Linked DNA regions of Homo sapiens: region 2 is linked to region 1. The links come from fine-mapping of genetic effects on gene expression. A gene starts in region 1. The other region holds a variant in brackets. All regions are shown on one strand. Distances are from middle to middle.

Region 1 (5,483 bases):
CGCCAGGCACCTACCGTAGTAACCAAAATAGAAGCGATACCAAGTATCTTACGGTCTGCAGGACTAGAAAACAGCGTTGTTTTTTTTTTATTCAGTAGTTCAGCCATCTCAATTGTCCCCTAAAACTGTATATAAGTCTTAATGTTACTACAAAACATATTTTATTACAAAGCACTAAATACAATGCGGATAATCCCAGACTCAAGACGTAATTATTCCAACACATATCCTCCAGCAGAAGCAGTTTCCGAGGGGAAAACCGAAGCCTATGCCTTCCTTCTTCCAGGAATACGAAGCGGCCCTTGCCCCTGTAGGCTTCGTCCTTAGGTTCCCGTCATGAAGGTAATCAGAAGGGTTTCTTTTTCAGCCCAAAGACGGTGACGAATAAAGCCATTTCAGTGACAGCTGGAAGGGCACTACCAAGGCAAGTGGTAGATTCAGAAACCCTTTCAGTATAAATACCCAAATCTCCAAACCAGAGACCCCACCTCTGAAAGTGTAGGGCAGGTGGCATGGGGGGTAGGGGATGAAACTTTAAAAGCCTACAGGATGTTGAGTGGATCTGGTATCTCACACATGGAGGAAAGGGCTGGGTAGGGGAAAAACCTTCAGGTTTAGGGCCAACCTTCCTCCCTCATCCCCAAATATTGGATGCTACCACACCTGCAGAAGACAAAAATGTACCAATACGTAGTGCACTCCCAACGCTCGAATATGAAGAAGGACAGGGCCACGGATGCACTACAGTGAGCCCCAATGGCTTGGGAAGGCACGAGATTAAGGAAAGTCTTTGGATCGACAGACAGTGATGGGTCAGAAAAGGCCAGTGGTGGGGCTGGCATCTGCATTCAGGTTCATCCCTTGCTCCCTCACCATGTTTCAAGGGCTAGAGTCAGCAGCTCTGACTTCTGAATTTTAGGACAGTCATGTGAGGAGAGACCAGAAGTGACTGCACAGATCGGACCTCAGGCTACCCTACCCCTTATCTGTGGGCCAGCCTGGATCCTTCAGATGAGAGGTAAGAGTAGGCTCTCCTTCTGCTATGCCACAAAGGAGTGCTGACAGCGACTTAATATGCGCTGGAATCAGCCTCCAGTGTCCTGGTCCTCCTGGTCCACAATTCTCTGACCCATGTGCCTCATCTCCTTTGCCTCTTCTGAGTTCCCAGTGCTCGCTTCCGTTGCCTCTTCTGAGTTCCCATTGTGCTTTATATCTTTTGTTTGTTTTTTGACAGAGTCTTGCTCTGTTGCCCTGGCTGGAGTGCAGTGGCACGATCTCAGCTCACTGCAACCTCTGCCTCCCGGGTTCAAGCAATTCTCCTTCCTCAGTCTCCTGAGTAGCTGGGATTACAGGAGTGCGCCGCCACGCCCGACTAATTTTTGTATTTTTAGTAGAGACGGGGGTTTCACCATGTTGGTCAGGCCGGTCTCGAACTCCTGACCTCAGGTGGTCCACCTGCCTCGGCCTCCCAAAGTGCTGGGATTACATGCGTGAGCCATCGCGCCCTGCCTGTGCTTTCTATCTTCACACACTTCTATAGCACAGTGCTTATCACACTGAATTACAGATTTGTATCTACCTCCTCCTCATTGTAAAAAGAAACGGTGGGGTTTTTATTATTCCTATTATTTTTGTAGACTTGGGTTCTCACTATGTTGCCTCCTGCCTGCGCCTCCCACAGTGCTGGGATTACAGACGTGAGCCAACATGCCTGGCCAAAAACTGTATTTTACTCTCATTTTGGGATTTTAAGTGCCTAGTAAACAGCAGGATTTAGCACATCGTTGAAGATCTTTGAACTGGAAGGATTGGCTACAGCAGACACTATTGTGTCAGGTGGCTGAAGGGAGTCCTGATAGAAGTGGGTCGTGTGGGAAAGGTGGGCAGGCAGAAAGGATACAGATGAGGCTCTGGGTGCTGTTGAACATGGAGACTCCTGAGAGGAAACCGGCCAGCTCCACTGCAAAGAGGCCCAGGGTGACAGAGAGCGCGGCCACCAGCCTGCAGAGAGGAAGTGGACTGGCCCAGGCCTTTGGACTTATTCTAAGACCCCTCCACTCCCACCACCTCTTCGTTCTGGCCACCCCGTCCCAAGAGCTCACTGAATGTCCTGCTTGTCATACTCCTCGGGGGTGAACGTGAGAGGCAGGCAGGCCTGTATGTTGCTGTCCTGGGAGCAGGGCACAGGAAGAGAAGTGAAAAAGGGGCAGGCTGCAGGGCAGGCCTGGGGGCGGCGGGAAACAAGAAAACCCAAGAGGGTAAGACACTGGGAGGGGGCAGGGTAGGACTAGGACCACTCAGAGATGGGAATGGGGACGGATTGAGTGCAGCCGTGGGTCTTACCCGGGACCAGAATAAGGTGATGACGACCACCAGATGCGCCAGGAGCGTCAGGAAGCGAGAGGGCACAAGCCCTGAGACCCGGCCCATGGCCCTCGGGGACAAGGGCGGCGGTCTCTGAGGCTGGAAGTTCAGAGACAGCGACTCCTGAAGTCTCCCCGCAAGCCGACAAATCTAGACGAACGCCTCCTTCCCGCCCGCTCAGGCACCGCCCAGTTGCCTTGGTAACCGTGTACGCGGGCTCGGCGCCGCGTTCTCGGAAATCCTCGCGAGCAGTACATTCTCCGGCTGCTGCGGGTCTCTCAGGGCCAGCGAAGGTCAGGGGTACCCGAAGGCGCTTCTAACCTAACGGCTGGGTACCCGCGCGCAGCCAGGCCCTTTGTTCCTCAGAGGGTGCGAGGTGGCACAGCCCCGCAGCGCCCGATCTGCCCACGCAGGGCGGATGAACGGAAACCCACCCTGGCCTAGCTTGGGGACACCAATGCTTCTGCTGTTGCCCACGCCGGGAGCGGCCCCCAGCCCCAGCTACGCTGCCCAGTTGTGGATCACTTGAGACCGCTGCCACCACCACGCCGGGCTGAGTTCCCCGCCATGCCGAAGACTCAGACCCGCTCCCCTTCCCCTCCTCTGCATGCCTTTAGCTTCCCACCAAGCTGGGCCTGAGAAACAAGGGACCCGAACCTGGAGAGGCCGGTGTTCCTGGACTGCTCTGCAGTCACAGATTGTCACGGAGCCCCTGGTTGTCTGAGGACCCCAGGCCTGAACCTTCCTTGAGGAAGACTGATTTCTTTCAGACTACTTTGCTCAGTTTGGTGAGGGATTTGCAGAGTGCAAAAAATGGCCAGCGTCCTTAAACTAGCATGGGGATAAGAGCAGAGCAAGGTGGCTGGAAAGAGTGGGAGTGGACGAAGGGAATGGGACAGTCCCTGCGTCTCTGGGAGGCTTGGAGCCGGCTGGAAGGGAAACTCAACTCAGATTTCTTTGTCCCTTGGAGGTGCTGGGCCTCCGACATTGCCCAGCTACAGTCCAAGAAGCTCTTATCATCGGCGACCTCATGACCTTTGGGCCTCAGCGCAGGTCCCTGCAGATCTGAAAGTTCTTTAATTGCTGAGTCAAGTCCCATCCTCAAGGAACCTCCCGGCCCATCTCCCAGGAGAACAATCTCTTCCTACTCCCCACTCCCCATCTCAGTGCTTTTAGCCAGCCTAAACTACAAGCCCAAGAGGCATTTCTCATTCCTTCAACAAATATTTGTATATGTTTATTGATTACCTAGTAAGGGTATTCTAGTCAGGGAGATCAACAACAGACATGCAAACAAATAAATCCGTAAGATAATAGGCGCTACAAACAGGGAAAAGCGGGCTGTGCACTGTGGCTCACACCTGTAATCCCAGCGCTTTAGGAGGCCTAGGAGGGCGGATCACCTGAGGTCAGGAGCTCGAGACCAGACTGACCAACATGCTGAAACCCTGTCTCCACTAAAAATACAAAATTAGCCGGGCGTGGTGGCGCGTGCCTGTAATCCCAGCTATTCGGGAGGCTGAGGCATGGGAATCGCTTGAACCCAGGAGGTGGAGGTTGCAGTGAGCCGAGATCGCGCCATTGCACTCCAGCCTCTGCAACAAGAGCGCAACTCCGTCTCCAAAAAAAAAAGAAACGCTAGAATTATAATTCTATAAAAATAGGGCATTTATAATTCTATTAAAATAGAGCATTTATTTTGTTTTATTTTATTTATTTACTTTTTCTGAGACGGAGTCTCGCTCTGTCTCCCAGGCTGGAGTGCAGTGGCGCAATTTCGGCTCACTGCAAGCTCGGCCTCCCGGGTTCACGCCATTCTCCCGTCTCAGCCTCCTGAGTAGCTGGGACTACAGGCGCTCGCCACCATGCCCGGCTAATTTTTTGTGTTTTTAGGAGAGACGGAGTTTCACTGTGTTAGCCAGGATGGTCTCGATCTCCTGCCCTCGTGATCCGCCAGCCTCGGCCTTGCAAAGTGCTGGGATTACAGGCATGAGCCACCGCGCCCAGCCGGACATTTAACCTTAAACTTTATTTTAGAAACTTTGGCCAAAAATTGGCCGGGAGCGGTGGCTCAGGCATGTAATCCCAGCACTTTGGGAGACCGAGGCAGGGAGATCACCTGAGGTCAGGAGTTTCAGACCGGCCTGGCCAACATGGTGAAACCTCATCTCTACTGAAAAAAAAAAAAAAAAAAAAGTTAAAAAGTTAGCCAGGTGTGGTGGCGCCCGCCTCTAATCCCAGCTATTCCAGAGGCTGAGGGAGGAGAAGTGCTTGAACCCGGGAGGCAGAGGTTGCAGTGATCCAAGATCGTGCCACTGCACTCCCGCCTGGGAAACAGACCAAGACTTCGTCTCAAAAAAAAAGAAAAGAAATAAAAAGAAAATGCACTCTGGGACCAGAAGCAAAAGCCCATGCCTGTAATCCCAGCACTTTGGGAGGCCAAGGCGAAGTATTCCTTGAACCCAAGACTTTGAAGCCAGTCTGAGCAACATAGTGAGACACCTCTCTCTGTTAAAACAATAATAAAGGCCGGGAATGGTGGCTTACGCTTGTAATCCCAGAACTTTGGGAGGCCGAAGCGGGCGGATCCCCTGAGGTCAGGAGTTTGAGACCAGCCTGACAAACATGATGAAACCCCGTCTCTATTTAAAAATACAAAAAAAAAAAAAAAAAAAAAAATTAGCCGGGCATGGTGGCACACACCTGTATTCCCAGCTACTCGGGAGGCTGGGGCAGGAGAATCGCTTGAACCCGGGAGGCGGATGTTACAATGAGCCGAGATTGCGCCACTGCACTCCAGCCTGGACAACAGAGCAAGACTCCAACTCAAAAAAAAAAAAAAAAAAAATATATATATATATATATATATATACACACACACACACATATATACATACATAGATATCTTTTTAATAAAGTTTTAGGCCGGGCGCGGTGGCTCACGCCTGTAATCCCAGCACTTTGGGAAGCCGAGGCGGGTGGATCATCTGAGGTCAGGAGTTCAAGGCCAGCCTGGCCAACATGGAGAAACCCCGTCTCTACTAAAAATACAAAAATTAGCCAGGCATCGTGGCACGCTCCTGTAGTCCCAGCTACTCGGGAGGCTGAGGCAGGAGAAT
Region 2 (5,259 bases), 21 kb after region 1:
GGTTGAAGTGAGCCAAGGTCGCTCCATTGCACTCCAGCCCGGGCGACAGAACATTTCATCTCAAAAAAAAAAAAAAAAATAGCTGGGCATGGTGATGTGTGCCCATAGTCCCAGCTACTCGGGAAGCTGAAGCACGAGAATTGCTTGAACCCAGGAGGCAGAGGTTGAAGTGAGCTAAGATCACACCACTGCACTCCAGCCTGGGCAACAGAATGAAACGCTGTCTCCAAAAAAAAAAAAAAAAAAAAAATTCAGAGTCTATAAATTTTTATTGGAACACAGCTATGTTCATTCACTTATGTATTGTCTTTTTTTTGTGTGTTGTATTGTTGTTGTTTTTTGAGACACAGTCTTGCTCTGTTGCCCGGGCTGGAGTGCAGTGGCACCATCTCAGCTCACTGCAACCTCCGCCTCCCGGGTTCAAGCGATTCTCTGCCTCAGCCTCCTGAGTATCTGGGACTACAGGCATATGCCACCACACCCGGCTAATTTTTTTATCTTTAGTAGAGACAGGGTTTCACCTTGTTGGCCAGGCTGGTCTCAAACTCCTGACCTAAGATGATCTGCCCAAAGTGCTAGCATTACAGGCATCAGCCACAGTGCCTGGCCTCCAACAGCATTTTATTTTATTTTGTTTTATTTATTTATTTATTTTGAGACGAAGTCTCACTCTGTCGCCCAGGCTGGAGTGCAGTGGCATGATCTCGGCTCACTGCAAGCTCTGCCTCCCGGGTTCATGCCATTCTCCTGCCTCAGCCTCCCCAGTAGCTGGGACTACAGGCGCCCGCCACCATGCCCGGCTAATTATTTGTATTTTTAGAAGAAACGGGGTTTCACCGTGTTAGCCAGGATGGTCTCGATCTCCTGACCTCGTGATCCACCTCGCCCCACCTGGCCCGCCTCAGCCTCCCAAAGTGCTGGGATTACAGGCGTGAGCCACTGCGCCCAGCCCCCAACAGCATTTTAAAATATTATTTTTAGAAAGTAAAAATTTCTATGTAAGGGCCAGGCACGGTGGCTCACATCTGTAATCCCAACACTTTGGGAAGCCGAGGCCGGTGGATCACCTGAGGTGAGGAGTTAGAGACCATTCTGGCCAACATGGTGAAACCCTGTCTCTACTAAAAATATAAAAATTAGCTGGGTGTGGTGGCGCATGCCTGTAATCCCAGCTACTCGGGAGGCTAAGGCAGGAGAATCACTTGAACCTGGGAGGTGGAGGTTGCAGTGAACGGAGATCATGCCATTGCACTCCAGCCTGGGCAACAAGAGTGAGACTCCATCTCAAAACAAACAAACGAAACAAAACAAAACAAAACAAGATGTCTATGTATATTAATGCAATTGGGAACAGCCCATGTTATACGTAAGAAATGACTGTTATTTCCATCTTAAAGACTCACAAAAGGCCAGGCGCAGTGGCTGGCTGGGTGCCGTGGCTCACGCCTGTAATCCCAGCACTTTGGGAGGCCGAGGCAGGTGGATCACTTGAGGTCAGGAGTTCAAGGCTGGTCTGGATAACATGGTGAAACCCTGTCTCTATTAGAATCGCTTCAACCCAGGAGGCGGAGGTTGCAGTGAGCTGAGACAGCGCCACCACACTCCAGCCTGGGTGACAGAGTCTGTCTCAAAAAAAAAGACTCACAAAAATACAAAAATAACTTGGCCAAGGTCACATGGCTAATAAGCAATGGTGAAGGAATTCAAAGTGAGACATGCTGACTCAAAGTGAAAGCTCGATCATCCACAGGTCTCACCCCTCCATAGGCCACAGTAGGGGTGGGGGTCAGATTACCCACCCTCAATGTTGCCAGTGCCCACATTACTTCACAGAAGTAGAGAGAAGTTATCTGCCGACCTATCAGGGGAACAAGCAAGGCTGGATATCTTTTCTGCTTTCTTTTTTTGGCATCATCCATTCAGTGGGAAGGTAAGGTGATCATCAAGTCCCAAAAATGAACAAATGCCCCAGTCAGCTATGCTCAGCATTTAGAAGAATGTCAACTAGGACAGTTTTCTCCCCATACCCCAGGGCATCAGCCCTTGTATTGTCTGTAGGGCTTGTTGAGTGGGATGGGGGTGGAATGCAGGTTTTATGTGGCATGTAGAATTATGCCATGGTTTTACATTACATTTGGGGATGGCTCTTGCTCTGGATACTTGGAATTTTCACGTGTGAGGAGATGATGTCTTTGTTTTCTTTTCTTTTTTTTTTTTGAGATGGAGTTTCCCTCTTGTTGCCCAGGCTGGAGTGCAATGGCCCAATCTTGCTTCACTGCAACCTCCACTCCCGGGGTTCAAGAGATTCTTCTGCTTCATTCTCCCAAGTAGCTGGGATTACATGCACCCGCCACCACGCCCGGCTAATTTTTTTTTTTTTTTTTTTTTTTTGTATTTTTAGTACAGATGGGATTTCACCATGTTGGCCAGGCTGGTCTTGAACCCCAGACCTCAGGTGATCCACCCGCCTCGGCCTCCCAAAGTGCTGGGATGACAGGCATGAGCTGCCGCGCCCAGCCGAGGTCAGAGCTTTAGTGATGGAAGTGGAAGAGCAGTTACAGAGGAGCATCCATTGGTGGGGAAGGACCAGAACTCTTAGGGAAGGGCTTCTGAACCCCTCAGAACCACCTGGGGAGTTAAAAGCGACATGGATGCTCCAGCCTCAACCCAGATCAATGAAATCTGAATTTGTTAGGGCAAGGCCTGGGAGTTTTTTGTTTTTTGGTTTTTTTTTTTTTGAGACGGAATCTCGCTCTGTCGCCCAGGCTAGAGTGCAGTGGCACGATCTCAGCTCACTGCAAGCTCCGCCTCCTGGGTTCATGCCACTCTCCTGCCCCAGCCTCCTGAGTAGCTGGGACTACAGGCACCCACCACCACGCCCAGGTAATTTTTTTTTGTATTTTTGGTAGAGACAGGGTTTCACCGTGTTAGCCAGGATGGTCTTGATCTCCTGACCTCGTGATCCGCCCGCCTCAGCCTCCCAAAGTGCTGGGATTACAGGCGTAAGCCACCGCGCCCGGTCTCCTATTTTCTTTTTAAGTCCTTCAGATGTTTCTAATGTGCAGCCATTGTTGATAACCCCTGAAGATAGGACCTTGCCAGCCATGATAAGGAGTTTTGATTTTATTGTAAATACACCGAAAAACCAAAGGAGGGTTTTGAACAGAGGAATGATATGCTCTGACTTTGACTGTTGGGGGAATGGACTCTAGGAGGCAGGAACAGAAGAAGCAGAGAGAATAGTTAGGAGGTTGTTATCACCCAAGCCAGAAAGGATGGTGACTTGAACCAGCATGAGAGTGATGGGGTGTGTGTGTAATAAAGGTGGGCCTCTCCATGGATTTGGTTGGCAATAGGAAGAG[T/G]TGGAAGATCTGGGGAGGTGAGGAAGAAAAAAGAGAGAAACCAGGAATGATTTCTAGGTTTTTGACCCAAGTAACTGGGTGCTAAATGATAGTGCTATTGACTGAGATGGGGAAGTTACAACTTTTTTGATTGGGTGGGCACTGAATTAAGAATACTATTTTAGGCCAGGCGTGGTTGCTCCCGCCTGTAATCCCTGCACTTTGGGAGGCCAAGGTCGGGGGATCACCTGAGGTCAGGAGTTCGAGATCAGCTTGGCCAACATGATGAAACCCCCGTCTCTACTAAAAATACAAAAAAAAAAAATTAGCTGGGCATGGTGGCGTGTGCCTGTAATCCCAGCTACTCAGGAGGCTGAGGGAGGAGAATCGCTTGAACCCGGGAGGCAGAGGTTGCAGTGAGCCGAGATCATGCCACAGCACTCCAGCCTGGGCAACAGAGCAAAACTCTGTCTAAAAAAAAAAAAAAGTACTATTTTAGGCATGCTTACTTTGAGAAGCCTATTAGATTGCCAAGAATGTGTTAGTCTCAAGCTTGATAGGGACGTCAAGGTGAGAAATACAAATGTGGGAGTCGTATTTAAAACCACGGGCTGGGCCGGGCACAGTGGCTCACGCCTGTAATTCCAGCACTTTGAGAGGCTGAGGCGGGTGGATCACCTGAGGTCAGGAGTTCAAGATCACCCTGGCCAACATGGTGAAACCCCTACTGAAAATATAAAAATTAGCTAGGCACAGTGGCACGCGCCTGTAATCCCAGCTACTCGGGAGGCTGAGGCAGGAGAATTGCTTGAACCCGGAGGGCGGAGGTTGCAGTGAGCTGAGACTGTGCGACCGCACTCCAGCTTGGGTGACAGAGCGACTCCATCTCAAAAATAAAATAAAAATAAAACCATGGGTTTGGCACAGTGGCTCAAGCCTATAATCCCAGCACTTTGGGAGGCCGAGGTGGGAGGATCGCTTGAGCCCAGGAGTTCAACACCAGCCTTGGCAACATAATAAGACCCCATCTCTACAAGAGAAAAAAAAATTACCCGGGTGTGGTGGTGTGCACCTGTGGTTCCAGCTGCTCCAGAGGCTGAGGCAGGAGGATTGCTTGAGCCCACAAGTTCAAGGCTGCAGTGAGCTGTGATCACACCACTGCACTTGAGCCTGGATGACAGAGTGAGACCCTGTCTCAAAAAAAAAAAAGAAAAAGAAAGAAAGTCGCAGCCAAAGATTTCATATTTGATACCCAGATTCTTGTGTTCCTGGAAACCAAAGTTTCCAGTATCTGAGAAGTTAAGAAAAAATAATTCATACTCCCATACCTTTGGACCTTTCTCCAGGATTTCTTCTGCCTTGGCCCCTGGAACTGTGCAGTCAACAGTAATCTTTTCATTTCTCCTGAAAACAAAAGATCTGACAGTGCATCTAGTTTTGGAAAACACAGGGGTCTGGCCTGTGAGTTGCTCCAACACCTTGGCTGCCTGTGTCAGTCTGTCGTCACTCTTCTCCACACAGATATTGAGGCAGAGCTTACAGATATAAAGTTGGCCTGAGCCAAACTCCCTGGCCTATTTTTTTTTTTTTTTTTGGATGCTAGATGTTTGCATGGTGATGAGACTTATCCAGCCAAAAAAAAAAAAAGGATATATAGATATAGATATAGATATAGATATGTGTGTGTATACACACACACATATATATATATATATAAATGGTAGAAAAGCGAAAGGGGACAATTACTGGAATGAAGTTGTTGAATAGTAGGAGGCCTGGGTTCAGAGTATATCTGGAGGGGCTCCCTGACAGGACTTGAGAAGGGGAAAGACAGATAATAGGTGAACAGAGGTAACTTGGGGCAATTGGTGATTGGAATGTACAAGACCCCTGTTTGGTTCTGCTGTTTCTCAGAGAA

The links. PIP is the estimated chance that this variant, and not a neighbour inherited with it, causes the effect.
Region 2: its variant is the best candidate, but not a certain one, in a credible set for the expression of TMEM107 in blood mononuclear cells (TOPMed, PIP 0.58).

The regions. Positions count from the first base shown.
Region 1 is chr17:8,173,857-8,179,339 of GRCh38, forward strand. TMEM107 (transmembrane protein 107) reads right to left here and starts at 2,524. Exons shown (of 5, transcript NM_183065.4): 1 at 2,344-2,524; 2 at 2,103-2,170; 3 at 1,901-2,001; 4 at 664-760; 5 at 1-416. The coding sequence starts at 2,430. The coding sequence ends at 347. LOC105371520 (a long non-coding RNA gene) reads left to right here and starts at 254. Exons shown (of 4, transcript NR_188261.1): 1 at 254-342; 2 at 920-1,018. RefSeq lists enhancers at 1,912-1,961, 2,012-2,071, 2,063-2,674, 2,102-2,151, 2,312-2,401 and 3 more.
Region 2 is chr17:8,194,544-8,199,802 of GRCh38, forward strand. It overlaps LOC124903913 (a long non-coding RNA gene), which reads right to left. Exons shown (of 2, transcript XR_007065604.1): 1 at 4,670-5,259. Among named protein-coding and RNA genes, the nearest start is that of BORCS6, 7.0 kb to the left of the region's middle. RefSeq lists an enhancer at 1,484-1,793. The variant T/G (reference allele first, on the strand shown) is at 3,363.